Regions from separate parts of the Homo sapiens genome. Here region 1 is linked to region 2. The links come from fine-mapping of genetic effects on gene expression. A gene starts in region 2. The other region holds a variant in brackets. All regions are shown on one strand. Distances are between the middles of the regions.

Evidence for each region. PIP is the estimated chance that this variant, and not a neighbour inherited with it, causes the effect.
Region 1: its variant is the best candidate, but not a certain one, in a credible set for the expression of XDH in unexposed skin (GTEx, PIP 0.72).

What each region holds. Positions count from the first base shown.
Region 1 is chr2:31,498,092-31,515,183 of GRCh38, forward strand. No RefSeq gene overlaps it. Among named protein-coding and RNA genes, the nearest start is that of SRD5A2, 74 kb to the right of the region's middle. The variant G/A (reference allele first, on the strand shown) is at 6,772.
Region 2 is chr2:31,405,884-31,422,975 of GRCh38, forward strand. XDH (xanthine dehydrogenase) reads right to left here and starts at 8,859. Exons shown (of 36, transcript NM_000379.4): 1 at 8,742-8,859; 2 at 24-81. The coding sequence starts at 8,783. RefSeq lists an enhancer at 10,598-10,647.

The DNA.
Region 1 (17,092 bases), 92 kb after region 2:
TCTCTTGGCAGAAACTCTACAAGCCAGAAGAGAGTGGGGACCAATATTCAACATTCTTAAAGAAAAGAATTTTCAACCCAGAATTTCATATCCAGCCAAACTAAGCTTCATAAGTGAAGGAGAAATAAAATACTTTACAGACAAGCAAATGCTGAGAGATTTTGTCACCACCAGGCCTGCCCTAAAAGAGCTCCTGAAGGAAGCACTAAACATGGAAAGGAACAACCGGTACCAGCCGCTGCAAAATCATGCCAAAATGTAAAGACCATCGAGACTAAGAAGAAACTGCATCAACTAACGAGCAAAATAACCAGCTAACATCATCATGACAGGATCAAATTCAAACATAACAATATTAACTTTAAATGTAAATGTGCTAAATGCCCCAATTAAAAGACACAGACTGGCAAATTGGATAAGGACTCAAGACCCATCAGTGTGCTATATTCAGGAAACCAATCTCACATGCAGAGACACACACAGGCTCAAAATGAAAGGATGGAGGAAGATCTACCAAGCAAATGGAAAACAAAAAAAGGCAGGGGTTGCAATCCTAGTCTCTGACAAAACAGACTTTAAACCAACAAAGATCAAAAGAGACAAAGAAGGCCATTACATAATGGTAAAGGGATCAATTCAGCAAGAAGAGCTAACTATCCTAAATATATATGCACCCAATACAGGAGCACCCAGATTCATAAAGCAAGTCCTGAGTGACCTACAAAGAGACTTAGACTCCCACACAATAATAATGGCAGACTTTAACACCCCACTGTCAACATTAGACAGATTGACGAGACAGAAAGTTAACAAGGATACCCAGGAATTGAACTCAGCTCTGCACTAAGCGGACCTAATAGACATCTACAGAACTCTCCCCCCAAATCAACAGAATATACATTTTTTTCAGCACCACACCTATTCCAAAATTGACCACATAGTTGGAAGTAAAGCTCTCCTCAGCAAATGTAAAAGAACAGAAATTATAACAAACTATCTCTCAGACCACAGTGCAATCAAACTAGAACTCAGGATTAAGAAACTCACTCAAAACCACTCAACTACATGGAAACTGAACAACCTGCTCCTGAATGACTACTGGGTACATAACGAAATGAAGGCAGAAATAAAGATGTTCTTTGAAACCAACGAGAACAAAGACACAACATACCAGCATCTCTGGGACACATGCAAAGCAGTGTGTAGAGGGAAATTTATAGCACTAAATGCCCACAAGAGAAAGCAGGAAAGATCCAAAATTGACACCCTAACATCACAATTAAAAGAACTAGAAAAGCAAGAGCAAACACATTCAAAAGCTAGCAGAAGGCAAGAAATAACTAAAATCAGAGCAGAACTGAAGGAGATAGAGACACAAAAAACTCTTCAAAAAATCAATGAATCCAGGAGCTGTTTTTTGAAAGGATCAACAAAACTGATAGACCGCTAGCAAGACTAATAAAGAAGAAAAGAGAGAAGAATCAAATAAACGCAATAAAAAATGATAAAGGGGATATCACCACCGATCCCACAGAAATACAAACTACCATCAGAGAATACTACAAACACCTCTCCGCAAATAAACTAGAAAATCTAGAAGAAATGGATAAATTCCTCGACACATACACTCTCCCAAGACTAAACCAGAAAGAAGTTGAATCTCTGAATAGACCAATAACAGGAGCTGAAATTGTGCCAATAATCAACAGCTTACCAACCAAAAAGAGTTCAGGACTAGATGGATTCACAGCCGAATTCTACCAGAGGTACAAGGAGGAACTGGTACCATTCCTTCTGAAACTATTCCAATGAATAGAAAAAGAGGGAATCCTCCCTAACTCATTTTATGAGGCCAGCATCATCCTGATACCAAAGCCGGGCAGAGACACAACAAAAAAAGAGAATTTTAGACCAATATCCTTGATGAACATTGATGCAAAAATCCTCAATAAAATACTAGCAAACCAAATCCAGCAGCACATCAAAAAGCTTATCCACCACGATCAAGTGGGCTTCATCCCTGGGATGCAAGGCTGATTCAATATATGCATATCAATAAATGTAATCCAGCATATAAACAGAACCAAAGACAAAAACCACATGATTATCTCAATAGATGCAGAAAAGGCCTTTGACAAAATTCAACAACCCTTCATGCTAAAAACTCTCAATAAATTAGGTATTGATGGGACGTATCTCAAAATAATAAGAGCTATCTATGACAAACCCACAGCCAATATCATACTGAATGGGCAAAAACTGGAAGCATTCCCTTTGAAAACTGGCACAAGACAGGGATGCCCTCTCTCACCACTCCTATTCAACATAGTGTTGGAAGTTCTGGCCAGGGCAATCAGGCAGGAGAAGGAAATAAAGGGTATTCAATTAGGAAAAGAGGAAGTCAAATTGTCCCTGTTTGCAGATGACATGATTGTATATCTAGAAAACCCCATTGTCTCAGCCCAAAATCCCCTTAAGCTGATAAGCAACTTCAGCAAAGTCTCAGGATACAAAATCAATGTACAAAAATCACAAGCATTCTTATACACCAATAACAGACAAACAGAGAGCCAAATCATGAGTGAACTCCCATTCACAATTGCTTCAAAGAGAATAAAATACCTAGGAATCCAACTTACAAGGGACGTGAAGGACCTCTTCAAGGAGAACTACAAACCACTGCTCAATGAAATAAAAGAGGATACAAACAAATGGAAGAACATTCCATGCTCATGGGTAGGAAGAATCAATATCGTGAAAATGGCCATACTGCCCAAGGTAATGTATAGATTCAATGCCATCCCCATCAAGCTACCAATGCCTTTCTTCACAGAATTGGAAAAAACTACTTTAAAGTTCATATGGAACCAAAAAAGAGCCCGCATCATCAAGTCAATCCTAAGCCCAAAGAACAAAGCTGGAGGCATCACGCTACCTGACTTCAAACTATACTGCAAGGCTACAGTAACCAAAACAGCATGGTACTGGTACCAAAACAGAAATATAGATCAATGCAACAGAACAGAGCCCTCAGAAATAATGCCACATATCTACAACTATCTGATCTTTGACAAACCTGACAAAAACAAGCAATGGGGAAAGGATCCCCTATTTAATAAATGGTGCTGGGAAAACTGGCTAGCCATATGTAGAAAGCTGAAACTGGATCCCTTCCTTACACCTTACACAAAAATTAATTCAAGATGGATTAAAGACTTAAACATTAGGCCTAAAACCATAAAAACCCTAGAAGAAAGCCTAGGCATTACCATTCAGGACATAGGCATGGGCAAGGACTTCATGTCTAAAACACCAAAAGCAATGGCAACAAAAGCCAAAATTGACAAATGGGATCTAATTAAACTAAAGAGCTTCTGCACAGCAAAAGAAACTACCATCAGAGTGGACAGGCAACCTACAGAATGGGAGAAAATTTTCACAACCTACTCATCTGACAAAGGGCTAATATCCAGAATCTACAATGAACTCAAACAAATTTACAAGAAAAAATCAAACAACCCCATCAAAAAGTGGGCAAAGCATATGAACAGATGCTTCTCAAAAGAAGACATTTATGCAGCCAAAAGACACGTGAAAAAATGCTCATCATCACTGGCCATCAGAGAAATGCAAATCAAAACCACAATGAGATACCATCTCACGCCAGTTAGAATGGCAATCATTAAAAAGTCAGGAAACAACAGGTGCTGGAGAGGATGTGGAGAAATAAGAACACTTTTACACTGTTGGTGGGGCTGTGAACTAGTTCAACCATTGTGGAAGTCAGTGCGGCGATTCCTCAGGGATCTAGAACTAGAAATACCATTTGACCCAGCCATCCCATTACTGGGTATATAACCAAAGGACTATAAATCGTGCTGCTATAAAGACACATGCACACGTATGTTTATTGTGGCACTATTCACAATAGCAAAGACTTGGAACCAACCCAAATGTCCAACAATGATAGATTGGATTAAGAAAATGTGGCACATATACACCATGGAATACTATGCAGCCATAAAAAAGGATGGGTTCATGTCCTTTGTAGGGACATGGATGAAATTGGAAATCATCATTCTCAGTAAACTATCGCAAGAACAAAAAACCAAACACCACATGTTCTCACTCATAGATGGGAATTGAACAATGAGAACACATGGACACAGGAAGGGGAACATCACACTCTGGGGCCTGTTGTGGGGTGGGGGGAGCGGGGAGGGGGAGCATTACGAAATATACCTAATGCTAAATGACGAGTTAATGGGTGCAGCACACCAGCATGGCACATGTATACATATGTAACTAACCTGCCTGTTGTGCACATGTACCCTAAAACTTAAAGTATAATAATAATAATTTAAAAAAAAAAAGAATTTTTTAATCAAAAGTTAAAAAAAAAAAGACATACCTGAGACTGGGTAATTTACAAGGAAAAAGAGGCTTAATGGATTCACAGTTCCACGTGGCTGGGGAGGCCTAACAATCATGACACAAGGTGAAAGGCATGTCTTACATGGTTGCAGACAAGAGAGAATAACAGAGCTTGTGCAGGGAAACTCCCCTTTATAAAACCATCAGACCTCGTGAGACTTATTCACTATCATGAGAACAGCACAGGAAAGACCTGCCCCCATGATTCAATTACCTCCCACCCACCAAGTCCCTCCCATGACACGGGGGAATTGTGGGAGCTTCCATTCAAGGTGAGATTTGGGTGGGGACACAGCCAAACCATATCATCTGGGTTGTTGTGGTGGTTCCATAGGTACATACATTTTCAAAACTCATCAAACTGTACACTTAAAACTAGTGTATTTTATTATGTGTAAATTATACCTTCATAAGCTTATTTTTAAAAACTACAATGAGATACCTTTTCTCACCCACTGGAATGGTTAATATTAAAAAGACTGACAATACAAATGTCGAGAATGTGGAGCAACATTCTCATACACTGCTGATGAGAGTGTAAAATGGTGCATTCACATTGGAAAACTCATTGGTGATTTCTAGTAAAGATAAACGCATGCCTTCCTTCTTATCTAGAAGTATATATCTAAGAGAAATGCATATATATTTACAAAAAGACTTTTCCAAAAATGTTCATAGCTGCTTTTTCTCACAGTAGTCAAAAATGGAAAACAACTCAAATGTTCAACAAATAAAAGAAGATAAATAAATTGTGGTGTTCCAGACCATGAAATAATATGCATCATTAAAACAATAATGAATTACTTATACACACAAGCCCATGGATGACTCTGTATATAATTCTATACCTGTGTGAATCTGCTTTGGCAGTGTATAACTGGTCACATGTTTAGCAGCTTTGAATACAAGCCCTCCTTTTCTACCATCCTTCTTGGGTTTTGGTATTCATTGTCTTGTGAGTCCATTTTTTTGTATGGCTTATAAGGTCATCCTGGAGTTTCGTCTTGTTTGGAAACCCCATTTCCTATCCCCCAACCAGCTGGAAAGGTTTGGATACCATGATAATAAAGCACATACAAATGGACTTAGGTGACCTCTGAGTCAGATATCAACAAGAAAATCCCTTCATTGCTTAGACTTTGAGGTACTCTTCCTTGATTTTATCTCTCTTCACCTTTCCTCACCTGGGAGGCAGAAGATAGGGAGTCGCCCAAGGCAAGGGGATCAAAAAATCTCCTCTACCTGCTTTTGATGTCAGAATTAGCCCTGTCTGAAGCTGAGCGATCAGCCCAGCTCACCAAGTATTTGAGAGAAAAACTGGAATAGTACATACAATGTGTTTGCCTGGAGTTTTTCTCTGCATAGTTACCTGTGATGGTCAAAGTGACTAACCTTCAGGGATCCTGGGAGCTGGCAAAAGATCATCACAGTCGAACAAATAGCTGACCTATAAATTGATTCTCATTCCCTAGTCTCGTGTTCATTATTACAATACAAACACCATGAAGACAAAAAAGCCGTGCCCCAAGCCCCTTAGAGTTGTCCAGCTCTCTTCCCAAGCACTTTTTTTCCTTGTCTATGCCAGAAGGCACTGGATTCGGCAGTCTCTTGCCCATTCAAAAAGTCCTAAACTGACACTTCTGAAGAGGATCAACTAGCAAACCAGCATTAGACTGTACTCTTTATTTCAGGCTACATCAGAATGAGGCATCCATTGATAAATGGTTATGATCAAAAGAAAGACTTGGAGAATCAGTTGTCCAACTGATTATAATTTTCTTTGCACAAAATATGGATTCAATTTCTGGTATTGAAGACCAACTCAGTAGAAAGAAGCCTTAGAGGGTTATGTCAGATTTCCCTTTATTAGATCCTTTGCTCTCCTTTTGTCTCCACATAAGCTTCAGATATATGCTGGAGAAAACCTTCAGTAAGCCATGAAGTGCCCTTTGAACATCCGTCCCTCCTGGTTGCAGTATTCTGAGCAGATAAGACAGGCAATTAACTTGGTACACAGATAAAGTTGGGGCAGGAAGCCCGGCATGATTTTAGGCTCTTGGTGAAGGAGAAGGTAAAACAACTCACCTTATAGAAGAGAGAAAACATGTTACAAGAACACACATAACCCCACTCACTACCCCATTGGGTATAGTCTTGTTCAGTCCTACATTTCTAGAAGGGAACAGCTCTGCTGTTTATACCTGTGGGAGGCATACTGGGGCCTAGTCTACCACAGGTATTAGATCTACATGTGGTTAGCAGGAAAGTGTCCATAAATTTGCAGATCCTTCAGGAATTCACCCTATGTTTATACCTAGAATTTAGAGTTGAGTTCAA[G/A]GCTGATGAGCATAAGTTTAGCCCAAATTCAACTGAACCTGAGATTATGGATCCCGCCCTAATTTAAGGGTAAGAAAAACAGAACAGCAAAGATCAAGAGAACAAGAGTGAGTTCAAGGAATTCTGGAGCAACCTATCAAATTAACAGTATTTACTTAGCCCTGTGTGGCTCCACACAATGCTTTGTGTTAAAGGATTCTTAAGTGTGAGACATGGGCCCTGGACCACAGAGGGGACAAGACATGCACCCATGAGAAGATCAAGAAATCATGCTAGGTAGCGCATAATTCAGGACCAAGTTGTGTGTGATTGTTGGTGAACACATTAACAACAAATCAGCAAATGGAGAGAGTCTGTGGCCTTCCTCCAGAGATCAGGGAAGCTTTAAAGGAGGGACTGAGGCTTAAGCAGCATTCTTAAAAAGGATTTGGATTAGCTGAGAAGAAATGGAGAGAGGGAGACATTCTTGCTTTGGCTGGAAAAGGAACAAAAGCTTGGGAGGGAGGAGTGAGTGCAAAACATTCACGTGACAAGAAGGAAGTAGAGAAAGAGTGAGGCAAGGTTCATAAGATAAGAGCCAAACCATGGAGGGTCTTGTAAGCTGATGAGTTTGTTTGATTTAATGTGTTAAGAAATGCAACACTGTATTAATAAGTCTATCCATTTAGTTGCTGACAGTGCAGGGTCAAGTGAGGCACCTGAGGTAAACAAAGTACTTGCCTGCAGTGCAAAATTTAAGGGGGCACCATAAAACTCAGTAATCAAGATAAACAATATTTTAATGCAGCATTTAAAAGATAAGATTCATGTAGAAAATCCATAATTAATAAAATATCAAGATTTTAAAGAAAGACAGCATCAGTAACAGTGGCATGCTAAGCCATATTAAAGCCTGAGAAAAAAGGAAAACTAAGTAATACTAACTTTGTCCTCTTTTTGGAAACTCAAAACACATATTAGTATATTAGGGGCTTTGAAAAGTACTGCAAAAAGTTCTATTCAACTCTTTAGTACTACATATCCCAAATGCATTTAACCACACATTTTTGCAGGCAAAATCTTTAGAATATTTTTCAGGACAAGCTAATATATTTTACTATTTTTTGACTGATAAAGAAACCAAGGCATTGAGAGTCAGCAAGATCTTTCTAGTTAACTAGGAATAAATAAATGAAAAATGTTGTGAGAGTATCAGTTCTTTTCTTGTATAAATAAGTGTGGTATAATGAATAGCTTTTAACCTTTAATTATTTTTTACAAACCTTAGGTAACTATAATTACAAATTAATTGAGAACTGTCTATAAATATGATTGCATAAATTGTAAGGAATTGTGTTAAATCTGTGCTGACTTCAAGGTAAAAAACAATACCCTTCACTGTATGGGAAATGAGCATCTAAAAAACTGACCTTGCTGCCAACAGGAGTTATAAGATCTGGACAAAATACAAAAACATCTACACGAGACTCTGGAGACTGAACAAAAGCAAGCAGTTTTTGGAGGAGAGCTAAAGCTACAGCAAGGAACACCATGGAACACAATGAGTTTTCACTTCATGTGGCTTTCCTCTGAAGGTAATAACTAGAAGACGAATCAATAAGAAGAATCTGAACAACAGGAAAAAAGTGAACAGAGCCTCACTGATCTATGGAACAACTTCAAAAGATCTAGCATATGTGGAAATGTAGTCAATAAAGGAAAGGAGAAAAATAATAGGACAGTAAACATATTTCAAGAAATCATAGCCAAAAATTTCCGAAATCTGGTTAATGACTTAAATTTACAGATTAAACCAATTCCATGAATCTCAAACAGGATAAATTTGAAAGAATCATACTTAGGCACATCGTGGTCAAACAGCTGAAAACCAAAGATAGAGAGAAAATTATGACATCACCCCAAGAAAATGACCCACTATATTCAACACTATTTGAATAATCATGGCTTCTCATCAGAAACAAAGGAAGCATACAGTAAAATAATATCTTTAAAGCATTAGTAGAAAAAACAAACCTATTAACTAAGAATTTCATGTTCTGCAAAAATGTCTTTTAAGAATGAAGCTGATATAAAGATATTTTCAAATAATGAAAAACTAAGGGTATTCATTGCCACCAGACTTGTACCACAAGAAATGTTATACTGAGTTTTGTAGGCTGAAGGGAAATGATACCACAGGAAAATTCAGAAAAGAATAAACATAACGATATTTATAAAAGACTATTTCTTCTCTCAATTTATTTATAATACAGACGACTGTTTAGAGACAAACTTTTAGCATTGCCTTATAGAATTTACAATGTATATATATCTAATACATATAGTAACCATAATATAGAGAATGGTAGAGGCATAAATGAATAGACCTAAATAATTGCAAGGATTATATATTTTAAATAAAGTGGTATAAGACTAACTTTAAATTACTAACTCTAAGTTAACTTACCCTATGAAAGGCTAACCATAGTACATCAACTAGAAAGATTACACCAAGAAATATTGCTAAAAATCTAATACAGAACATTAAAATTGAATGGTAAAATACATATATAATGCAAAAGAAGGCAGAAAGAGAATAGCAAAAGAAAAATGGGCAAAGAGAACAACCAAATAAATAATAAATTGGTAGGACTAAATCCAATCATGTCAGTAATTTCATTAAATGCTAATGTACTAAGCATGCCAAAGATTATCAGAATGGATTATTTTAAAGGCAAGATTAAATTTATGTTGTCTACAAGAAACATGTTTTAAATATGAAGACATAGACTAAATATAAAGATGGACAGTAAATAGAAGAAAAAAGAAATACCATGTAAATAGCTTAAGAAGATTAAAATTGATATATTAAAATCAGATAAAACAGACTATCAGATAAAGAGTAAAAATTACAGTATTATCAAAGATAAAGAGAGCCCTTCATAATGATAACATTATCTATTGGGGCCTTTTTAGCTCAAGTAATTGGTAAGATTTAATAATCAAAAATGTGTATACACATAATAATAGAGCTTCAAAATACAAGAAGTGAAAATTGATACAACTAAGGCAAAATAAACAATAAAAAAATTATAGTAGGAAAATTTAACACCCTTCTCTCAGGAATTGATAGAACAACTAGACAAAAAAAATCAACAAAATGTGATATCTCATTGTACTTTTGATTTGCAATTTTCTGGTGATTAGTGGTGTTCAGTATCTTTTCAGATATTTTTTGGCCACTTTTATGTCTTCTTTGGAAAAATGTTTAAGTCCTTTGTCCATTATTTAATGGGGTTATTTGTTCTTTTGCTATTGAGTTATATGAGTTCCTTATATATTTTGGATATTAACTCCTTATTAGATAAATAGCTTGTAATTATTTTCTTCCATTATGTCAGTTGTCTTTTCATTTTGCCAAGTCCAAAAAATCATTGCCGAGATGGAAACAGAAAAACAACAGAGAAAAATCAATGAAACAAAAAGCTGGTCTTAGAAGAGATCAATAAAATTGATGACCCTGTAGCAAGATTGACCAAGGGAGAAAAAAAGAAAACACAGACATCAAAAGAAAAATAGGAGGATATAACAGACAATTCTATGTCCAAAAATTTGATAATTTACATAATTATTTCAATGTCTTGAAAGATATAAACTACCAGAACTCACTGAAGAAGAAATAAATAACTCAGATAATACTATATTTATTTTAAATTGGATTTGCAATTAAAAACCTTCCAAAAAAGAAAACTACAGGCCTAGATTGTTTCACTGGTGAATTCTACAAAACATTTAAGGAAGAAATAATATTAATTGTATACCATCTCTTTAAGAAAACAGGAGAGAGACAACTTCTTAACTAATTTTATGTGGCCAGCATTACCTTAATACTCAAACTAGACAAAGACATTACTAGAAAACAAAACTATAGACCAATATCCCTCATGAACATAAATGCAAAAATTCTCAAAAAAAATTAAGAAATCAAATCCAGCAATAACTACATATAATAATATATCATAACCAATAGGGGTTTATACAAGGTTTGGTTCAATATTCCAAAATCAATCAATGTAAGTCACAATATTAACAGACTAAAGAAGAAAAACCATATGATTATGTCAATAGATACACAAAAATATTTGGTAAAATTCAACATCTGTTTATCATAAAAAAAAAAAACTTTCAGGAATCTAAAAAAATAAGGAGACTTCCATACTGATAGATGGCATATCACACACACACACACACACATACACACAACATACAACAAACAACAACTATAGCTATTAACGTTGAAAAGCTAAGTGCTTTTCTCCTAACCTTAGAAACAAGGTAATGATGCCCCCTATCACCACTCCTATTCAATATTTTACAAAAACTCCAGCCAATGTAACAAGATTTTTTTTAAAAGATGATTGAAAATAAATAAAACTCCCTCTGAAACATTATTTTTCCTCTAAAACATTCCAAAAATCAATTTTCAAAAGGTTCATAGAACTAATAAGTGAGTTTGTCAGGGTTGCAGGATACACAATCAAGGTACAAAGATCAATTGCATTTCTATAGGCTAGCACAGAATTCCAAAAATATAGAGTTCAAAATTTACAAAACAGTCCCAATTACAATAACATACAAAAAATGAACTAGTTAGGTGTCAATCCTACAAAATATGTATAGAATTTGTATGCAGAAAACTACAACACATTGATAAAAGAAAACAAGATCTAAATAAATGGAGAGACATATGATGTTCATGGAATGGAAGATTTAATCTTGATAAGATGCCAATTCTCCCCAGATTGAGCAATAGTTACAATGCAATACAAATCAAAATCTCAAAGATCTATTTCATAGATAATAAGGAGCTAAATCTAAAACTTACATGGAAAGACAAAGGAATTAATACAGCCAGAACAGTTTTGAAAAAGAAAAAGTTGGACCACCCACACTACTTAATATCAAAACTCGTAAGTTTAAAGTTATCAATATATTGTGGTATTCGTAAAAAATATACACATACAGATCAGTCATATAAAATAAAAAATGCAGAAATAGATTCTACAAATATAGTCAACAGATTTTTGGCAAATGTGCAAAAGCAAACCAATACAGAAGAGTTCCTCTTTTCAACAAATGATGTTGAAGCAATTGGGTAGTCATCAGGAAAAATACAAGAACAGAAAGTTAACCTCAATCTGTATCTTACATGTTACACAAACATTAACTCAAAATGCGCCATAGAATAAAATTAAAAAGTGTATCTATAAAGCATCTAAAAGAAAACAAATAAGAAAATCTTTATAACCTTGAGTTAAGCAAAGAGTTATTTAGCTATAACACCAGACGTATGATCCATAAAAGAAATAAATTAATAAATTAGACTCCATTTAAATTAAAATTTTTTACCTGTTAAAAACACTCTTACACGAATGAAAAGACAAGGCACAGGCTGGTAGAAAATATTTTCAATAGATACATTTGACTGAACACTTGTATTCAAAATATGTAAATAGCTCTCAAAACTCAACAGTAGATTCAGCTCAGTGGCTCAGGCCCTTAATCTCAGCAGTTTGGGAGGTTGAGATGGGAGGATCTCTTGAGCCCAGTTTAAGACCAGGCTGGGCAACATAGTGAGACCCTTGTCTCTACAAAAATGGTTAAAATTAGCCAGGTGTGGTGGTGAACACCTGTAGTCCCAGCTACTCAAGAGGCTGAGGTGAGAGGATTTCTTGAGCCCAGGAGATTGAGGTTGCAGTAATCCATGATTGTGCCACTGCACTCCAACCTGAGACCCTGTCAAAACAAACAAACAAAAAATCTCAGCAATAAGAAAACGACACAATTTTTTTAAATGAGGAAAGATCTAGACACTTCACTAATGAGGAAATATGGATGGCAAATAAGCATACGAGAAGATGCCCAACATCATTACACATTAAGGAAATGCAAATTTAAGACAAAAAATTACTACTACATACCTATTAGGGTTGCTAAAGAAAAAGGCAATATCAAGTGCTTGTGAATATGCAGAACAATTGGAACTCTCATACATTGTTGACTGAAATGGAAAATTATGCAGGTACTTTGGAAAAACTGGTTGGCAGTTTCTTAGAAACATATGCATACCTAATCCAGCAATCTCACTTCTATGTGTTTACCCAAGAAATTTATTTATTTATCCATGAAATGTATGTTTGCTAAAAATCTATACACAAATATTCATAGAAGCTTTATTTATAATTGTCAAAAACTAGAAACAACTCAAGTATCCGTCAACATGTGAAAGAATAAATAAAATGTGGTACACTTTGAGATACTTAATGCAGTATTACTTAGAAAAACAGGGAATAAACTACTGATACAATCAATTACATGAATTAATCTTATAATTTTTACAGTGAGTGAAGGAATCCACATATAATAGAGTGCATACTTAAGATTCCATTTAGGTAAAATGCAAACTAATACAAGAGGGAGTTGAAAAGTTTGTGAACAGAATTGAATGAAAAGATAAAATAGAAAATGTGAACTTTATTTCTCAACATAAGTTCCATCAAAGTCATGACACATTTTTTTGTGATGGTATCAGACATTTAGTTCATCCCTAAAGAACTGAAAGTCCTGGGAATTTAAACAATGTCAATACTGTGTTTTGTTTTGTTTTAACACTGTTAGCTGAAGAAAAATGGGTATCCTTTACAGACTTTTTTAAGATTAGGAAACAAAAAGAAGTCAGGAGCCAAATCAGGACTGTAAGCCTAACAATTTCCCATCAAAACTCTTGCAAAATTGTCCTTGTTGGATGAGAAGAATGAGCAAGAGCATTGTCATGATGAAGGACTCTCTGGTGAAGCTTTCCTGGGTGTCCTTCTGCCAAAGCTTTGGCTAACTTTCTCAAAACATTTTCATAATGAGCAGATGTTACCATTATCTGACCCTCCGGAAAGTCAGCAAGCAAAACACCTTGAGCATCCCCCAAAAAACCATTACCATGACCTTTGCTCTTGACTGGTCCAATTTTGTTTTGACTGGACCATTTCCACCTGTTGGCTGCCATTATGTTGCTTGTCCTTTGTCTTTAGGATCATATTGGTAAAGCCATGTTTTATCTCCTGTTATAATTCTTCAAAGAAATGCTTCAGGATCTTGATCCCATTGTTTAAAATGTCCATTGAAAGCTCTGCTCTTGGCCCCAGCTTATGTGGGCATCTTTCAGTCAGAATATGTAAGCTGAACCAATTGAGATGTCTATGGTGTTAGCTATTGTTCATGCTGTTAATCATCGGTCCTCTTCTATTAGAGTGGAACAAGATTCTTTTTTCCCTGACAAATTGATGTGATGGTCTGCTACTGCAGGCTTCATCTTCAATATCATCTTGTCCCTTCTTAAAATGAGTTACCCATTTGTAACTGTGGATTTCTTTGGGGCATTGCCTCCTTAAACATTTTGTGAAGCATCAATGATTTCACCCTTCTTCCACCCAAGCTTCAGCATCAAGTGGATGTTCGTTCTTGCTTCAATTTTAGGAGAATTCATGTTGCTGTGATAGGGGGTCTTTCAAACCCATGTCTTTCTTATCTTTCTTAGTGCCTCAAACTAGATCCTGTTCAGATATGTTATAACTACCTGGTACAAGTTTATTTTGGCACAAAAAATATTTTAAATCCATTATAGGTTTTCCATAATATGCATTTTCTGTGAATTATTTGAAGACTCCACATATATACTGAAGAAAAGAAAATCAGTGGTTGTCTACAACCATGGGTGAAGGGGAGAATGGACTGTGGTATGAAGAAGTTTTTAAAGTTAAGGAAATATCCTGTATCTTGATTGTAGTGGTTGTGACATGGGTGTATACAAGTGTCAAACTCATTGTATTGTATACTTGAAATAGATGCAGTTTATTGTAAATAAATAACTTCTTATCAAATAGATTAAAGAAATTTCTAATATCATTTTTCTCTCTTATGATGTTTTTCTTTCTCCTAAAAGTAAATGAAACAGAAAATTTTTCCTGCCTAATGAAGTGATTTGCATAATGAAGTCACTGATATATGACCCTTCTAGAGTTTCTGACCAGCCATTATAGTTTCATCTGTTTTCCCCCACCTGCTCCCTTGAATGTGAATAAAGTGTTTGAGCATTGACCCCACTTCTGTAGGCACTGTCCATCCCCCTACCACAAAGAGCCAGCTCTCCCCAGAGATGCTTCCTTGTGTCGCCCAGGTGATTGTTCACCACACTTGACTCCTAGAATAGCTGTGGCCCAGAATTTGGAAGTTAGTGCTCCAGGAGATAGAGTTTTCCTTTGATTTGAACTAAACTTCTTGAGTCCTGCATTTTTTTACTGACTCATATTCAGATGTTACTGGCTCTGCCTTGGAGCTTACTGCAACTGAATTATTAATGCCTCAGAAAATTCTACACAGACCTGGATTGATTCCCATAAACCACATGAACTACAGGCCAGGTTGGCCCAGGCAAACTGGTGAACCAGGAATTATACATTCAATGCCTGGCACTTAGAGTTATAAATCTAGAAGGAGCCTTAGAGAGCCCAAGTCCAAACTCAGGCCTCTGTTCAACCTGAGCTTCCCCAGCAAGTCATCCTCCAGGCTCTCTGGAACACTCCAGTGATGAGGAGTTCACAATCAGATGTGTTGTCTTCTTTGCAGTTAATTAAATATCTCTCCTCTGAAGTTTACTCCTTGTTACCTTCCTGGCCTCCCCAGTCTCTGGGGTGCCCAGAGTTCAAACCTCAATCCCACTTGCTCATGTTCCCATCTGTGCACCTAAGCAGTCCCTACTACCAGAGGGCACCCCAAGTGCCACTCAGCCCCTTCCCTCTGCAGCCTTCTCCCCTGCTTCTGTTTCCTCACCTTGTTCTCTGCCCTGGGACAAGGGATCAACCAAACCATTTAATCCCTGCCAAGACGCATTTAACTTAGAGCAATTTCAGGTCACCTGGTGCTTTAACTTACGTAAAAGTCTCTGTCTCCCAAAAAGAGTGCCAGGGTAGGAACTTTTGACCCCACGGGTGGCTAGAAAGGAAGACATTTGTGTCATAGGACTCTTTTAGACTTCTTTGAATCAAACTGCAAGAAGAGGTAGAAAGTTAGCTTTTACAAGATATAAGCCAACAACACTGTCCTCAGTGTTTAATGTGCATAAGAAGCATCTGGCCCACTCCCTTAATTAAGATCCATGGGCAATCCCCTCTGTATTAGTCTGTTCTCACATTGCTATAAAGAACTACCTGAGACTGGGTAATTTATGAGGAAAAGAGGTTTAATTGACTCACAGTTCCACAGGCTTAACAGGAAGCATGCCTGGGAAGCCTCAGGAAACTTACAATTATAGTGGAAGGTGAAAGGGAAGCAAGCACGTCTTACCATGGTGAAGCAAGAGAGAGTGAAGGGGAACGTGCCACAAGCCTTCAAACAACCAGATCTCATGAGAACTCACTCACTATCATGAGAACAGCAAGGGGGAAATCCACCCCCATGATCCAATCACCTCCCACCAGGCCCCTTTCCTGATGTGTGGGGATTACAATTTGACATGAGATTTGGGTGGGGACATAGAGCCAAACCACATCACCCTCTATGGGAGTTCCTCAAGAAAATGACACTTGTAATGAGACGGTTTGTCACAAGATGTTTCCTAATGTAGTGGAATTCTGTGTAGACCTTAAATATAAAGCTGAAAATGCAACATAATCATAGGACAGGTTGAATTTAGGCACCAGAATGAGAGTTGAAATGTGGAACTGTGCTTGTTTGTGTGTGTGTGTTTGTGTGTGTGTGTGTGTGTTTAAAGGGTTAGTGTATTACTATTTTTTTTTTTTTTTTTTTTGAGATAGAGTCTTGTTCTGTCACCCAGGCTGGAGTGCAGTGGTGCGATCTCGGCTCACTGCAAGCCCCGCCTCCCGGGTTCACACCATTCTCCTGCCTTAGCCTCGCCAGTAGCTGGGACTACAGGGGCCCGCTACCATGCCCGGCTAATTTTTTGTATTTCTTTAGTAGAGACGGGGTTTCACCATGTTAGCCAGGATGGTCTTGATCTCCTGACCTCGTGATCCGCCCTTCTCGGCCTCCCAAAGTGCTGGGATTACAGGCATGAGCCACCGTGCCCAGCCAGGTTAGTGTATTACTTATGACCGAGCAGCCCAGCCTGAAGGCCTGGCCACACTTGACAAGTGGCCAACCTATGCCAAAAAGAAGGAGCCAAATGACCGTCTGTCCAGGACTGCCTGAGGCATCAGGACATGCACCTCATCCAGTGGCCACTGCCAATCTTCCACCACACCTGCCAGGACCTGCCTGGACACTCTGCTCT
Region 2 (17,092 bases):
CTCCCACTCCAAAGTCAGGATACACTTTCTTCTCAGGTAGGCCAAAAGGGTTGTCTCTGGATCTGCATTTTTCTCCACCACCTATTAAAATAAATGAAAGAAAAATATATCATAGGTATACTTAGTCATCTTTCTGCAATTAATTTCTTCCTTCAGTGTCTCACTCAATAATTTGTAGAGTTAGTAGGAAGTGTGATATAGTTTGCACTCTGCCCCTCTAAATCTCATGTTTAATTGTAATCCCCAGTGTTGAAGGTGGGGCCTAGTGGGAAGCAATATGATCATGGGGGCAGATTTCTCATGAATGGCTTAGTGCCATCCCCTTAGTTGTGAATTAGTTGTCACGAGATATTTAAAAGTATGTGGCATCACCCCCTTCTCTCTCTCTCTTGCTCTTACTGGCCATGTGATGTGCCTGCTCCCACTTTGCCTTCTGCCATGAGTAAAAACTCCTGGAGGCCTCCCCAGAAGCCAAGCACATGCTGGTGTCATGCTTGTACAGCCTGCAGAACTGTGAGCCAACTAAATCTCTTTTCTTATAATTACCCAGCCTCAGGTGTTTCTTTATAGCAATGCATGAATGGCCTAATACAATGTGCTAAATAGATCATGAAAACTAAGGTATTTTTATGGCAACTCCATAAGAATGAACCTATAAACTACAGCCAGACAATGTATATACTCAAATCCTTAAATTCTAAAATTGTACCTCAATGCTCACCTTGGGACCCACCACAGAACATGCAGGCATTGCACCTTCCACGCTGGCTCGACCAAGGCCAAATCCCCTTCAAATAAAACCTGTCATCTCATTTCAACTGCTAGATCACACCTGTGAATTTCAGGGGCATCTGAGAGCATGGCATGCAGATCTCGGACTTTGCCTCTTTGAGTATACAATCTCAGATCCTGCATGTGACTGTGGAAGGCCATTCTGTTGGCCTGTGCTCAGAGCAGAGTGTTGGCATGTGATGCGTATTAGTCAACACTAATACATGTCAGAAATGAAAGAGAAATCTCAAACCAAAGATCCATCACTAGGTTCAATAAGGTGGAAAAAGTGGTCTAGAAAGTGCGATGTCAGTTCCCACTGTGAATTGTCAAAGGAAATCTACAAAAACCGATTTCAGTACTCTTCACACATTACCAAAGCTTAAAAGGGTGTATATTATTGGGATAATAAAGAGAAAGAATTCATGATAAGGTTTTCGTTGGAGGGAACTATACTACCCACACCTTCCTAAAGGAGAAGGGGAGGAATATTTGCCTCCCACCTCAAACTTAGTGAGGGAGCTTGCTTTGTGCTACATAAAAATCTAACATGCCACCTTTGCAGCATAGGGGAAGAGATAGGCTTAACAAGAAATTAATACCGACAATGACAAGTTTAAACTCCTCATTAAACTTAAGTTGGAGAGGTGGCTGTGCTGGGGTTGGTATACACTCCCGGAGCTTGGTAGAGCAGAGGATGTGGAAGTGTCGCCTATGGATGTAATGCAAGCCATTCATGAGATAAAAAGAGCTGGCTTGGAGGTCTTTAAATCATTTCCCAAAATACAGGATAGAGCATTCAATAAAGAGAGACTGTGTGGAGTGGACTTCCCCAAACTGGAGGCTGATGGAGAACAGCAGCCTGAGAAAAGTGCATCACTCATATCATGAGACATGCATGCAAATATTCCCTGTGGTGGCCCTTGAAGATCCTTGAAAGCCATCACAAGAAGAATGAAAGGTCAGCTCCAAACACCTAAAAGGCTCAGAAAGCCGGAAGCCATCTTACAATAGTACCAATTAAAGGAGAGCTTTCTTGCTATCCTCACCCCGCCGTCCTGAATTGAGACTGTTTGGCAACTTAAAAATAACCATAAGATTTTTTATTGACTAAGAGTAATAAAAAGTTCATGAAACTGCCAGAATTTGTCCTTTGAATAAAGTTTAAAGGAAAGTAGATGAAATTAATTTTCTTATGTGATTACACCCCATGAGTCCAGCTTATTCAATATCCTGGTTACAAATCATAGAAGTAATCATAAATGCACAAAATAGCAATCTTTATCACCTTTCTTGTAGACAACATTAAGAGCCTCTTAGCTTACCACCACATTGTTCATTTCTCCCGTACTGCAGTTCTGCTTTTATCACATCACATCAGTTCCCTGCTCAGTGCTTTTCATGACCACCCACATATTCAAGGTAACATCCAAGTTCCTTAGGCTGTCTTTCAAGGCCCTTTTCAATATATTCCCAATCTTCATTTTCAGCCTTTCTCCCTTCTACTTCCCTGCCAAGCTGGTCATCTTAGTGCACTAAAAATACATTTTATATCTTCTAATTCCTGTGCCTTTGACTATGCCATTCCTCTTCCACCTGCATTTTGACTTATCAGAAGACTTCAAACAATTTCTTCATAAAGGCTTTCCTTATCACTCCAGCCACAAGTGGATTGCTATAGAGAATGACTGTGCCACTCTCAAGGTGTGACAGCAGGATTACCATGGTGCACTCCATTGAACACTCTCAACAGGATACCAATGGGTATCCCAAAGGAAAAACATTTTGTAGGGAAGTGAGTTAAGGAAATGTTGGGTTAAGCAGATTGCTCTGGTAAAACTTGAGCATCAAAAGAAATAACAGCCATAATGGGCTATAATACATTAAATACAATTAAAACCTATGAGTCCAAATAGAGTCAACAAACAAACAAATGGAAGATATGGAAAAGCTCTTCCTGGCAGAAGAATGTCATCTAATAAATATGATTGGCCATCTTGTAATCAACACAATTGATCCAGTTAAGAATCATCAATGGAAATTAGTACAGCCACTATGGAGAACAGTTTGAAGTTTCCCCCAAAAATTAAGAATGGAGCTACCATATGATCCAGCAATCCCACTGCTGGGTATATACACAAAAGAAAGGAAGTCAGTATATAAAACAGATACCTGCACTCCTATGTTTTTTGCAGCATTATTCACAACAGCCAACATTTGGAAGCAACCTAAGCGTCCGTGAACAGATGAATGGATAAAGAAAATGTGGTACACATACACACTGGAGTGCTATTTAGCCATAAAAAAGAACGAGATCCTGTCATTTGCAACAACATGGATGGATGGAGCTGGAGGTCATTACGTTAAGTGAAATAAGTCAGGTACAGAAAGACAAACTTCACATGTTCTCACTGATTTGTGGGAGCTAAAAATCAAAACAATTGAACTCATGGAGATAGAGTAGAAGGATGGTATCAGAGGCTGGAAAGGGTAGTAGGGGGTAAGAGGAAAGTAGGGATGGCTAATAGGTACAAAAAAATAGAAAGAATGAAAAAGACCTAGTGTTGGATAACACAACAGAATAACTACAGTCAATAATAATTTAACTGTACATTTAAAAATAACTAAAAAAGTATAATTAGATCATTTGTAACACAAAGGATAAATGCTTGAGGAGATGAATACCACATTTTCTATCATGTAATTATTACACATTGCATGCCTATATCAAAGTATCTCATGTACCCCATAAATATGTAGATCTACTATGTACCCCCAAAAATTAAAAATTAAAGGTCTTTCCATCTCCCCTTCTTCTCTTTTCTTCTGGTTTTTATGTAAATGTTGCAATGAGCCATCAGTGACTATGAGATCAAGTGTAATACAGAACTCCTAAAACTCAACAACTATAAAACCCAATTCAAAAATGGGCAAAGGACTTGAATAGACATTTCTCCAAAGATCTACAAATGGCCAGCAAATAAATGAAAAGATGCTGAACATCACTAATCAGAACTATAATGAGATTTCACCTCATACCCATTAGGATAGCTATGATCAACGAACAAACAAATAAACAGAAAATAACTGTTTGCAAGGACGTGGAGAAACTGGAACACCTGTCCACTGTTGATGGGAATGCAAAATGATACAGCCACTGTGGAAAAATAAGTAGGACAGTTCCACAAAAAAGTAAAAATAGAACCAGCATATGATCCAGCAATTCCACTTCTGGATTTATACCCAAAATAATTGAAGTCAGGGTCTCAGATATTTATACACCTGAGTTCATGACAACGTTATTCACAGTAGCCAAACTGTGAAAGCAACCAAAATGTCCATCAATAGATGAATGGATAAGCAAAATGTGATACATCCATACAATGGAATATTATTCAACCTGAGAAAGGAAGGAATTTTTGACATATGCTACAACATAGGTGAACATTATGCTAAATGAAATAAGCCAGTCACAAAAAGACATACTGTATGATTCCCCTTAAGTGAGGTAGTTTAGTCAAATTCATAGAGACAGAAAAAATGATGGTTTCCAGGGACTGGGAGAAAGGTAGAATAGGGAGTTATTATTTAGTAAATTTATAGAGTTTGTCTTAAAAGATGAAAGAAGTTATGGAGGTGGACGGTGATGATGGTTGCCCAATATTATGAATGTATGTAATACCACTGAACTGTACACATAAAAATGATTAAGATGGTAAATTTTATGTATTTTACCACAATAAAAATTATTTAAAAAAAGAATATCAATGGATACTCAAATTAGTGGGTGAAAATTTGATGAACAAGAATTTGTATCATTCCAAATTATCTTCTCACATAGCCTCTATTAATTATAAAGGTAAAGAAAAGTTACCTTACAGTGAAGAAACGTGGTGGATAACACCTTAGCCAAGTCACCAAAGTTCGCATCACAAAAAAGACCCAAAAACTGACGTTAAAAAAACAAACATAATGACAGAATGCAGTGAGAAAAACACATTACTTCTGTGGTATTCCTGCCCCCCAAATGCAGACTCTGAATCTAATTACAAGAAAGCATAATACAATTCAATGTGAGGAACATTCTAAAAAAAAACTGGCCTGTTCTTTTCAGAAACACCAATGTCATGAAAGGAAAGCTGAGGAGCTGTTCTAGATTAGAGGAGACTAAAGACATGGCAACCAACTGCAAGGCGTAATCTTGGATTCCGGGCTGGGGTTGGGGAGTTATAAATGCCAGTATTGGGAAAATTGGAATACATTTGCATAAAGTTTATAGTATTACACCAAAGCTAAGTTTCTTGATTTCTATAAATGGACTACAGTTTTGTAAGAATATATTTATTCTGGCCAGGCGCGGTGGCTCACGCCTGTAATACCAGCACTTTGGGAGGCCGAGGTGGGTGGATCACAGGTCAGGAGTTCAACATCAGCCTGGCCAAGATGGTAGAACCCCAACTCTACTAAAAATACAAAAACTTAGCCAGGCACGGTGGTGGGCGCCTGTAATCCCAGCTACTCAGGAGGCTGAGGCAGACAATTGCTTGAACCCAGGCGGCAAGGTTGCAGTGAGCCGAGATCGCGCCACTGCACTCCAGCCTGGGCGACACAGTGAAACCCTGTCTCAGGAAAAAAAAAAAAAAAAAGAATATATTTATTCTTAGGATAAGAGCTAAAGGAACATGATGTCTGAAACTTACTGTCAAAAGGTTCAGAAATCTATCTTATACTATATATTCATTTATATTAATTATGTACATTAATATATAGAATTATTTACGTACTTATAATACATACATGTGTATCTGTGTGTGTGTCCAGAGTGAGAAAGAGAGAATAATAAAGCAAATGTGGCAAAACATTAACAGTTGGTAAAGTACATAAAGGGTATTTAGTATTTCCTTGTATTCTTCTTGCAGTTTTTCTTTAAATATAAAATAATTGTAAAATACAAAGTTAGAGAAGTAATTTATTTACTACAGGATTTCTCAAAGTTTTAAAAATTCATCCACTTATTCCATCCACACTAGTTGGACACCTACTGTATACCATGCACTGTGCTAAGTGGTTTAAGAATATCCAAGAAGAGCATCTCATGCTGCTAGTTTTCTGTGAAATACATTTCAGAAGGTATTACTTTGTCTAATTATAATCCATCTCTCTAACTAGTATATGGGCTCCAGAATGGCAAATGCCTGATCTTGGAGATCTTATTCCCCCAGTGCATATCCTGTTGTCTGAGGCCTCAGAAGGAGCTTGATAAATGTTGACTATATGGGGAGTGAGCAAGTGAATGATGAGTAAGTGAGTGAGTGAGTGAGTGAGTGAGTGAAAGTCACCGTGACGATCTCTGTAGCTGACACTCACTTCTTGTGGGGATCACTCCTGGACACCTTTGGCTGCACCCAACCTGCCAGATCCTCCCAGATTCTTCCAGGTGCCACAGTCTCAGCTAGACAGAGTGACTACTCAGAAAAGCTAGAATGCTGCCTTGCAAAAAGGCTGTCATTACAATAAAAATAAAATACTGGACAGCTCTTTCCCTTTGACTCTGACTCTAGAACAAAAGAAGATGTGAATGAAAACAATAGTCATCAAGGCTCATCACCACCACAGAAGGCCCTAGAGGTATTCGACTTCTTGCATCGAACACCTTCTGCAGGACCCCATTTAGTGAAGCCAGAGTCCTGGACAGTGGTACAAAACAAGGAGAGGAGTAGGCTCACATTTAAAAACCAAACACTGCATGTTCTCACTCATAGGTAGGAATTGAACAATGAGAACACTTGGACACAGGAAGGGGAACATCACACACCGGGGCCTGTCGTGGGGTGGGGGGAGAGGGGAGGGATAGCATTAGGAGATATACCTAATGTAAATGACGAGTTAATGGGTGCAGCAAACCAACATGGCACATGTGTACATATGTAACAAGCCTGCACGTTGTCCACATGTACCCTAGAACTTAAAGTATAATAATAAAAAAAAAGAGTCACTAAGTTCTTACAGCTTCTTTGGTAACTACTTTGCACAATTCCTGTAACAAAAGGTCTAGAATATCTTCTGAATAAAAATGAGGACAACTTTCTCACAGCTGCCATTGTTTACCCAGGAATTCCCTTGCTTGGTCTTGTTTTTACAGCATTGCTTTCACATAATTACTTTCTGCATTGCCCCTCTACCTTTCTTGCAGTTTCTGAAGATGCTACATCATTATAAATTACAAACATGGATATTCATCACAGAAACTGGCAGTAGTAGAAGCTTCTAGAAATAATAGGATTTGATGTGATGGTACCATCGAAAAATTTAAAATTACTCTCCTAAAGTGAAAGTAAAATGCAAGGGAAAATAATTTTCCCCAAGCCAGATTTACCTTGAAATTCTTCTTTCTAGATTTAGTGCATAACAGCAAGCCATCCCTGAAGAAGAGCAGAAACTTATACTTTTACAGGTTAACCAATGGTTTGGTTTAATAAATAATAAAACCTCAGAGTAAGACATGACCTTGGACGTCATTGAATCTAGCTGTTTACCCAATGTAAAAATTACTAATAAAAATTCCAGAGATGGCTTTGTGTAAGTAGCTCTCCTAGAAAGCCAATTGCACAATGGTTTCCTAGATTTCTACAATGTAATTGCTGAAGGAAAGAAGTTGTTTGAAATGCTGGATGCAAAATCTTACACTTGAAAGCTTTGCCCTACTTCTTGGGTTGGTACCAGGTGCCAACCCTGAAAAGGATGCAGCTCAGAGAGGAAACTCTGAACCCAGAAGAACATGGCTGTCCCCATTCCCCAGCACTTCCCAAAGGCACCACTCAAAGAGAGTCCATCAATCTTTGGAGCACTGACGTTGAAACAGTTCATGAAATTTCTTTTACAGTCACCCAAACACATCCTGGAAATTTAAGACCTAGGAGTCCAGTGAAGCACATTATTGTTCTTGAAAATTATACCAAAAGTCACTCAAAATTACATCAAAAGTTTCTCAACTCAATGCAAAAATGCCAATATAGAAAGACAAATAAAATTGCCCTTCTTTGGGGGACACTTTGGGCACATTCATCACGCACAGTCCACACAGTAAGTTACAATGTGCAACTATGGGACTCTTTTACTATCCTTTTCATTCCTAAGTGGGAAGTTGAACAGGTATGAGCATCTCAGCAGTGTTGTAGGAGGGCAAATGGAGGCTAGTGACCATGTAATATGCTTGCCCCCTCTCTCTCTGCACCACATTAAAATTTGCAAAGATTCTCACTCTTGTCCAAGGGCTGGTACCCATGTCACCTTCCCTAAGTCCCTGTGTACCAATAAGGTAAATTCAAGTAGGTAACAGATTTGCAGCTTACATGTAGAACTCACTGTGTGTGGGTGGGGAGTGGGGGGAATGCAGGAGATGCCCTTTATGAAAAAAAAATTGTGGTTTGCCACAAGGTGTCAGTATATGTCACCTCACAGTGAATCAGGACTGGCTGTTAAACCTATATATATAATATATTAGAATCAAAGGCTGCGTACATCTTATATCCTGATAAAAGCAGGAAAACACATTCCTGTTCCTTCTCTCTGTAAAGAGAGCAACGTAAATTTTAGGATATATTTGATTAAAGACAGAAATAGAAGTGTGGTGATGACCTCAAATCTCACCTAGAACTCAACTCCCCTTTCTCATTCTGTGCCAATCTCCACTACTGCAGAGAGTTGGCAGCTAGCTCACAGATGCCTCTCTGCTTGCCTCTCTCTCCCTCATTCTTTGGCCTCTGAGTATCTTGTCTGTGCTCTAGCCCCGAGAAGGTCTTCTTCCCTAATGTTACCAAAATGCAGCGACACCTTTAAAGCGAGAGAGAGAAAGACAGAACAAGTAAGAGGGGACAGGAAAGACAGAGAACAAGATATGGCTCTGCCAGAGGACACATTTCCCCTCCCAGGGAGAAGGGACACAAAACCAAAGGTCAGCTCCTACTTACCTTTCTGCCATTCACAAAGAAAACCAATTTGTCTGCTGTCATTGTCACAGGTTGGGGTCCCCGAACTCCAGGTACCTCACTCCTAAGAGACACTGGCAGGTAGTTATCACTGCTCTGTGACCTGAAAGTTACGCCTCCCAATAAAATGAAATAAGGTCCACCAATGGGAGGGAACCAGCTCAGAGCTTCAGGGCATGAAGAGTTCTTGGCAAAAGCCACTGGTTTACATAATCAAGGAAGTGCAAACAATCACACACAGCAAATTACAATCTCCACACCTGTGTCAAAGAGCACAGGAAACTACATCCAGATATCAGTAAGGTTGTTGACTTGGCACTAGGCGACTGTGGGTCTTGGGCGCTGCTCTTATGAAACCTGCTTCGTCCTCCCACTTGCTGCAAGACAGAGAAGGGGAAGACAGAGGAGGGAAAGGACTATTCTCAGAGTCACTGCTAATAGAGCTGATTCACACCCTCTGTGTCTACATTTGTCATTTTACCATTCAGGTTTACAGCAACACAGACTGACTGCATGAATGCAAGAGTCATTCTTTCACAGCCTGGTGGAGCAGAGAGGTCACAGGACATGGAGCCCCATGAACCTGACTCAAATCCTGGCATTTGACCTCAGCATGTTACTTACTACCTTCAGAACTCAGTTGCTTTCATCCTGTACAGGATCATAGAATGATATCAAGAATAGAAGAATGAGGGACAAATGACATTTTGGGAGTGCCTTGTAAATTTGCAAAGAACCAAAACATGTATCACTGTTGAAAAGACATCTTCAACATCTCAACAAATAAAATCCTAATAGCAAACTATTTTTGAGATTTGTCTTTTATTTGTTTCTCTCAGGAAAATATCCTTGACAAGTTGTCAGAGTAACTCATAAAAGTATTTCAAAACACCAAATAAATTAAAATGCTCATACCACATAGTCATAGGCTACAGTAACACATAGCTGAAAACCTTTCCCCATCCAATATCCATTAACTCTCAGTGGAAACACAGATGTGCACGTCCACTGGAGCAGCACTAAAGGGCTCTCTGCAGTCCAGCACCCTCCCAACTGCCCCTACCAGTTCTTTAGTTCAACACACACACACACGCAAAAAAAAAAAAAAAAAAAAAAAAAAAAACACACAGAGACCAGCATTCACTCTGGTCTTCTTCTGTCCTGTAATGACCCATACAGTGGCTCAGCCAGCCTTCCTTAAGTAAGACACCTCCCCTACAACCCTAGCAGGCTACCTGAGGGGGAAGAAAGGAGTATTAGGCAGATGTACTTGATATAGCAACAGCTTAGAGAAACTGAAGACTGACAGGACAACCACACAATCAACACAATGCCCCCTCTCACCACAGCCTTAATTTAACCAGGAGATGAAACTTTACTTGTTGGTTGACCAAATATCCCAGTTTGCCCTGGACTATCCTAGTTTTAGCCTTGAATCCCTGACAAATGCCTCAGAGATCCTAGTAAATCCTTCAGTCCAGGGCAAACTGGGATGGTTGGTCACTATAAAACTGGTTGTTGGCTGGGCATGGAGGCTCACACCTATAATCCCAGCACTTTCGGAGGCCAAGGTGGGTGGATCACCTGAGGTCAGGAATTCATGACCAGCCTGGCCAACATGGTAAAACCTCATCTCTACTAAAAATACAGAAATTATCTGGGAGCAGTGGGCCACCTGTAATCCCAGCTACTCTGGAGACTGAGGCAGGAGAATCACTTGAACCTAGGAGGCGGAGGTTGCAGTGAGCTGAAATCATGCCACTGCACTCCAGCCTGGGCGACAGAGTGAGACTCCATCTCAAAAACAAAACCGAAACCAAAACCGGTTGTTAAATCTGAGAGATTCCCTACCCCAGAAGCCACTTGGCAATGTCTGGGGATATATTTTATTGTCACAACTGGGGAGGGATGCTACTGGCATTTAATGGATGGAGGCCAGTAATGCCACTAAACATCCTACAAACCACAAGACAGTCCCACCCCAATAAAATGAACAACAATGAATGTCAATAGAGCCAAGCTGGAGAAATTCTGCCCTGAAAGAAAGAAGGAAGGAGCTGGGGAGAGAGAGAGACTGAGCCTAGGGCATGTTTTGTAATTAGTCAATTCTTCCAAACCCTCACACCTCTTTGATTGAGAGGCTTTTCCTCCATGCACTAATCTACCCAATTTAACAAGCCCTCCCCTTCCTCCTAGGCATTCCCCAGCCAATGCTCCAGGAAAAGCTAAAGGGACGGGCTGAGGAAAGAGCTCAGGCTTTGGAGTTCCATAGGCTGGCTTGAATGTTAGCTCCACCACTTCTGTGTGCCGCCTTTGGCAAAAATCTCTCTCTTGGCATCAGTATTCTCATTTACAAAACGGAGGTGGCCATAATTGCTTGGTAAGGACCAACTCTTAGCTGAATGAAATAAAACATAGATTAAATCTGTTGTCCACAGGAGAAACTAATGTTGGTGTGCTTCTCCCCACTCAGCAAATCTTCAACCCCTCTCTTAACTAGAGGTGAAATTCCTCTCTATTACTATGGAGCATTGAAAGATAAAAGTGAAATAAATTTTCAATAAGGGTTTGTGTTGTCATGCAGAATTTTCAGCTCTGTAATAACTAGTTGAAACCCCAAATACTGACATTTGACAAAAACTTGAATTAGTATGATTACTTATTATTTAGCAAAGTATTTGCCACCATTTTCTTTCTCTGTGACTTTATTTCTTTAATTAACATTAAAATCATACACATTTATCATGTATAATATGATGTTTTTAAATATGTATACATTGTTAAATAGCTCCATTGAGCTGAATAACATACATGTTACCTCACATATTTATCATTTCTTCTGGTGAATACACTTAAATTGTCGTAGAGATTTTCAAAATATACATCGTTATTAAGTTACAGTGACCATGTTGCACAACAGATCTCTTGAATTTATTCCTTCTATCTGACTGAAATTCTGTATTATTTGACAAGCCTAGCTCTATCGCCCAGGCTAGAATGTAGTGGCGTGATCTCAGCTCACTGCAACCTCCAACTCCCTGGTTCAAGTAATTCTCCTGCCTCAGCCCCCCGAGTAGCTGGGATTACAGGCATGTGCCACCCTCATGTTTGGTTCCAAAATTCTCTAGACCAGTTAAATGGGGCCTCTGTCTGTTTATAACAAAGGCATGGAGAGGCTGATGAAATTTTTCCTAGGAAGAAGTACTCTCTTTTTCTCATTTGTCTTGAACAAGTTCACAATCTTTGCTCACAGACCCACCATTGAAGCACTCCCATTTAGCCCCAGGTAATTTTTGTATTTTTAGTAGAGACGGGGTTTCACCATGTTGGCCAGGTTGGTCATGAACTCCTGACCTCAGGTGATCTGCCCACCTTGGCCTCCCAAAGTGCTGGGATTAGACCTATATTTAGGTGTCTCAATGTTGGGTGCATATATATTTACAATTGTCATATTCTCTTGAGAAATTGAGCCCCTTTTCACTATATAATAATTTTTTGCCTCATTGTACAGTTTTTGACTTAAAGTTTATTTTATCTGATATATGTATAGCCAACCTGCTCTTTTTTGGTTTTCATTTTCATGGATATTTTTTCCCATCCCTTCGCTTGCAGTCTATGTGTGTCCTAAATGTGAGATGAGTCTCTTGTATGCAGCTTATAGTTGGGTCTTGTTTTATTTATTTATTTTTCCATTCAGCCACTCTATGTCCTTTGATTAAAAAATTTAATCTATTTACTTTTAAGGTAATTATTAATAGGTAAGGACTTACTACTGCCATTTTATTGTTTTCTGGTTGTTTTATAGATCTTTTGTTGCTTTTGGCCTATTTTGTTTTCTTACTTTGTGATTAAGTGATTTTCTCTAGTGTTATGCTGTGATTGCTTACTTTTTATCTTATGTGTATCTACTGTAGGTTTTTCCCTTATGGTTACCACGAAGCTTACATAAAACCTCTTACAGTTATAACAGGCTATTTAAAGCTGATAACAACCTAACTTTCATTGCATAAAAAACCCTAAACTTTTGCTCCATTCTCCCTCACATTTTGTTTTTGAAGCTGCAATTTACATCTTTTTATATTGTGTATCTCTTAACAAATTATTGTAGTCATTATTTTTAATAGTTTTTTCTCTTAACCTTCATACTAAATATATAAGCAATTTACACACCACCATTACAGAATTAGAGTGTTCTGAATTTGACTGTGTATTTACTTTTACCACTGAGTTTTACACTTTCATATGTTTTTGTATTACTAATTAGTGTTCTTTTCTTTCAGCTTGAAGAACTTCCTTTAGCATTTCTTGTAAGACAAGCTTAGCGATGTAAACATTCTTTCCAGTTTTTGTCTGGGAAAGTCTTTATCTCTCCTTCTTCATCGCTCCTTCATTTCTCCTTCATTTCAGCTTTTGAGGTACAATAATTTTGGTTGGCAGAGTTTTTTCTTCAGCATCCTGAATATATCATCCCACTATCCCTGGCCTGTAAGTCTCTGCTGATAAATCTATTGCTAATTTCATTGGAACTCTCTGATATGTTATTTGCTTCTTTTTTCTTGCTACTTTCAGGATCCTCTCTTTGGTTTTTAATGGTTGGATTATAATGTGTCTTGGTATAGTTTTGTTTAATTGAACCTTATTGGAGACATTTGACCCTCTTTACCTGTGTATTTATATCTTTCCCCATATTTGTAAAGTTTTCTGCTATTATTTCTTTAAATAAGCTTTATACCTCCATTGTCTCTCTCTTCTCCATCTTGAGCTTTTATGACTCAAAATTTGTACTTTTGAGGTTGTCCCATAAGACCCATAAGCTTTTTTAAAATTCCTTTTTATCATTTTTTTTCTCCTTTGGCTGTATGTTTTCAAATAACCTGTCTTCTAGTTCACAGATTCTTTCTTCTGCTTAATCAGTATTGCTTTTGATGCTATCTATTGCATTTTTATTTCATTCATTGTATTTTTCAGCTCTATAATTTCTGTCTTTTTAAATAATTTCAATATCACTGTTAAATTTCCCATTTTGGTTGTGCATTGTGTTTCCTGATTTCTTTGAATTTCTTTATATTTTCTTGAAGTTGGCTGAACTTCCTTAAAACAATTATTTTGAAATCCTTGTCAAGCAGTTTTTATATCTCTATTTCCTTGGGGTCAGCTACTGGGAGATTATTCTTTTGGTGGTGTTCTATCAACTTGCTTTTTCATGTTTCTTTCTGCCTTCTGTTGATATCTGAGCATTTAAAGAAGTAGTGACTTATTCCAGTATTTGCAAACTGGCTTTGTCTGGGAAAGTTTTTCACCAGTCAGCCCGTCCAGAGATTTGGGGCAGGTTGTCTGGTATAATCTGAGAGTGGGCTTTCTGCTGGAGCCTTCAGGAAGACTGGCCTGATGCCTAGGTCAGCAGGTGAGTGGGCCTGGGGTCAGGATCCACTGGGGTAGACCTATTGATTGAATCCAAGGGCAGTAGGCCTGGAGCCTGAGTTGGTGAGGGCAAGCCTGGAGCCTATTTCCACTGATGCTTGATGTCTGGGTCTGTAGGCATTGACCTGGTGCTGGGATAAGTTTTGAACCTGAATGTGCAGGGGCTGGCTTAGGGTGCTAGGGTGGAACCTGAAGCTGTGGGGTCACACTTGGCACCAGAGTGGGCTTGGAGGTTTAATCCCCAAGTGGATTGGAGTCTGGGCCCACGGACACCTGCCTGGCTCTGGGTTTTACTCTAGTGGACCCAGTGTTGGGTCCAAGGCAAAGTTTAGTGCTCAATTCCCTGTCCCTGGATATCTCCTTGGAGATCTTGGAGAGATATCCAAGTGAAGGATATCTCTCTCCACTGTGCTGCCTAGGGTTGGGGAAGTGGTAACACAGATAATGTAAAACTATTCTTCCTACCCTCTTCAATGCATCTTTTCTCATTTCTATGCTGTACCCAGGTGCTATAATCTCTCAGCTGGTATTCTTAGCTCTTGTGAAGGCATTTTTTTTTGCATAGATATTTGTTTAAATTGATGTTTCTGCAAAAGGATGAGTGCTGAAAAATCTTATTCCACCATCTTGCTGACATCAGTCTCTTCTTTGGTACTTTTCAAAATAGTATAAATGAAGGGAAAAAAATCTAAAGTCAGAACTTTTTCCATACTGAATATCTACTGTATATGCTTTTCACATTAGGATGAATTCTGAAATTTTGGCTGAAGTAATGGAATTTTACCACCTGGTAATAGACCAACTGTGATGTACATTTTATTACATTAACTTACCTTATTCTCCTAAGAGATATCTTGGCTTTTAATATACACTGCATTGGCATGTGAGGCTTTAAAATTCATAGAAAATCCAGATAAGCCCTGAGGCCTTCTGGACACAGACCTCTTCCCAGTGGGAGCCACACTTTCAGGAAATCATAAAAGATAAGAAAAGTAAAAATGCTGCCAAGAGTCATAACTTATTTTTTGAAGAGTGAGCTCCCTCAGGGCCAAGTACTTCCTGGAAGAAGATGATTCAAGAAAGACTATGGAGTGTTTCCTGAAAGGCTGGTCAGAGCTAGACCAGCATCTGTGGAGACTTTAGTGCTTTTGAATTCATGCCCTGGCCTTCTGTGCCCTGGCTGTGTCTCTAGCTCTCTTTAGAAGTCACTGCTGGCCTTTATCCTGCCTCTGCAGCAGCTTCTTCCCAGTCTGCTCCGTCCTTTTTCTTTTCAACCAGATGTACATTCTTGTCTGTAACCTAAGGGCATTCTTGTTCATTTTCTTTATTTACAACAAAGTTTACTTTAAAAGAAAGAAAATGTTTTTTCAATATATTCCATTGTTCAGATTTTTTTAACCAAGACTGGTTTCACTCCTACATATGCTCCACTCTGGATGAAAGATTTTTGCCATATTCTCAGAGCATTACTACTCAACACCCAATACTCCTTTGTTCTCTCAGACATCTATATTATTAAGTAATCCTAATAATAGTTCTTGACTATGAATAACATTTCTTTCACACATCTTGATTTCATTTGATCCTTATAATAGCCCTGTGAGGTAAGTAAGGAAGTTATTTTTATCTTCCTTTTTCAGACAAAAGCAAGTGAGAGTCAGAGAGGTTGACTTGCCAACTGTCGCACGACAAGCAAATGCCAGTTTCTACATCCGTCACCCATTTCCCAGCAGAAAAGTTATCTCTCTGATGGTTCTTCACTAGTAAAACCAGGATTGTTAGCATAGCATTTATGGCCCTTCTTAGTCTGGCTGAAATCCAGCTTTCTGGTTGGTAAAGTGTCTTTCTCTCTTGCCTAGATAGTGGGCCCCTGAGATTAGGAGCAGAACAGTGTTTACCACTGTTTCACTGGTGCCTAGCATAGAGCCAGATCTATAGAAGCATCAAAAAATGTTTGTTGAATTGTGTCCACAGTGCAAGGGATGAGTTATGTTTTCACAAATATCTAAGCGTCTGCCTTTTACTAAACACAGAAGTTTCTTCCGTCATTTCATAGATTCTCAGCATCATTTAACTTCGTTTACCAGTTCCATTCTAACTAAACTTTTGTTAGTTAACCAGCTAGTATTCCTTAAGATAAAGGTCACATTACTTCATTACTATAGAGGAAATCAATCAATCAAGCAAATACACATCTGGGAGAATCCTCTTAGGAAGATGAGATTATAAAAAAAAATGGACACAGTCAAAACTAAAAGCATGTAAACTTCAGCCTGGGTCTTCACTGCAAATACACAAAGGCCCAGGGAATAGAAAAGGCCCTCGAAGCAAATGTAAACCCACTTCAATCTGTCTGCATCATCCTTATGTTTTTTATAATGTATTTTTCACTCAATAAAGTCTGTCACCACAGAGTCACGTGTGGCAACGACCATGTGGGTTTGGTGGCTAGCTGGACAAAGTAAAGTTTCTCTTTCCACTCTGAGCTGCTCTTGCACAATTCAGGAAAGTAAGTCCTTACCTCTTCACTTATTCAAGGATCAACTCACATGTGATCTGTAGACAATATAGACCAATGAGTAGCCACTGGAGAAAATTATTATTATGACTATTTGCACCCTTAATTCCTTCCCCTGATTTATTTTTACTATTATCATCTGAAATGATACATAGTGCACTCACTTATATGTTTAATGTCTGTCTTCCTGCACCCAGCAGAACGTAAATGTGGCAGGAATGTCAATCTTCCCACCAAATATTCATGCTCTCCTTCTCTAATGAAGAGTTTCTGCTGGGAAGTCACTATCCAGCCAGGAGCTACATTTTGCAGCTCCCTTATATGTGGCTAAAGCCACATGATTGAATATTGATGAATGTAATATGGGTAAAACTGATGTGTACAATGCCCAGGC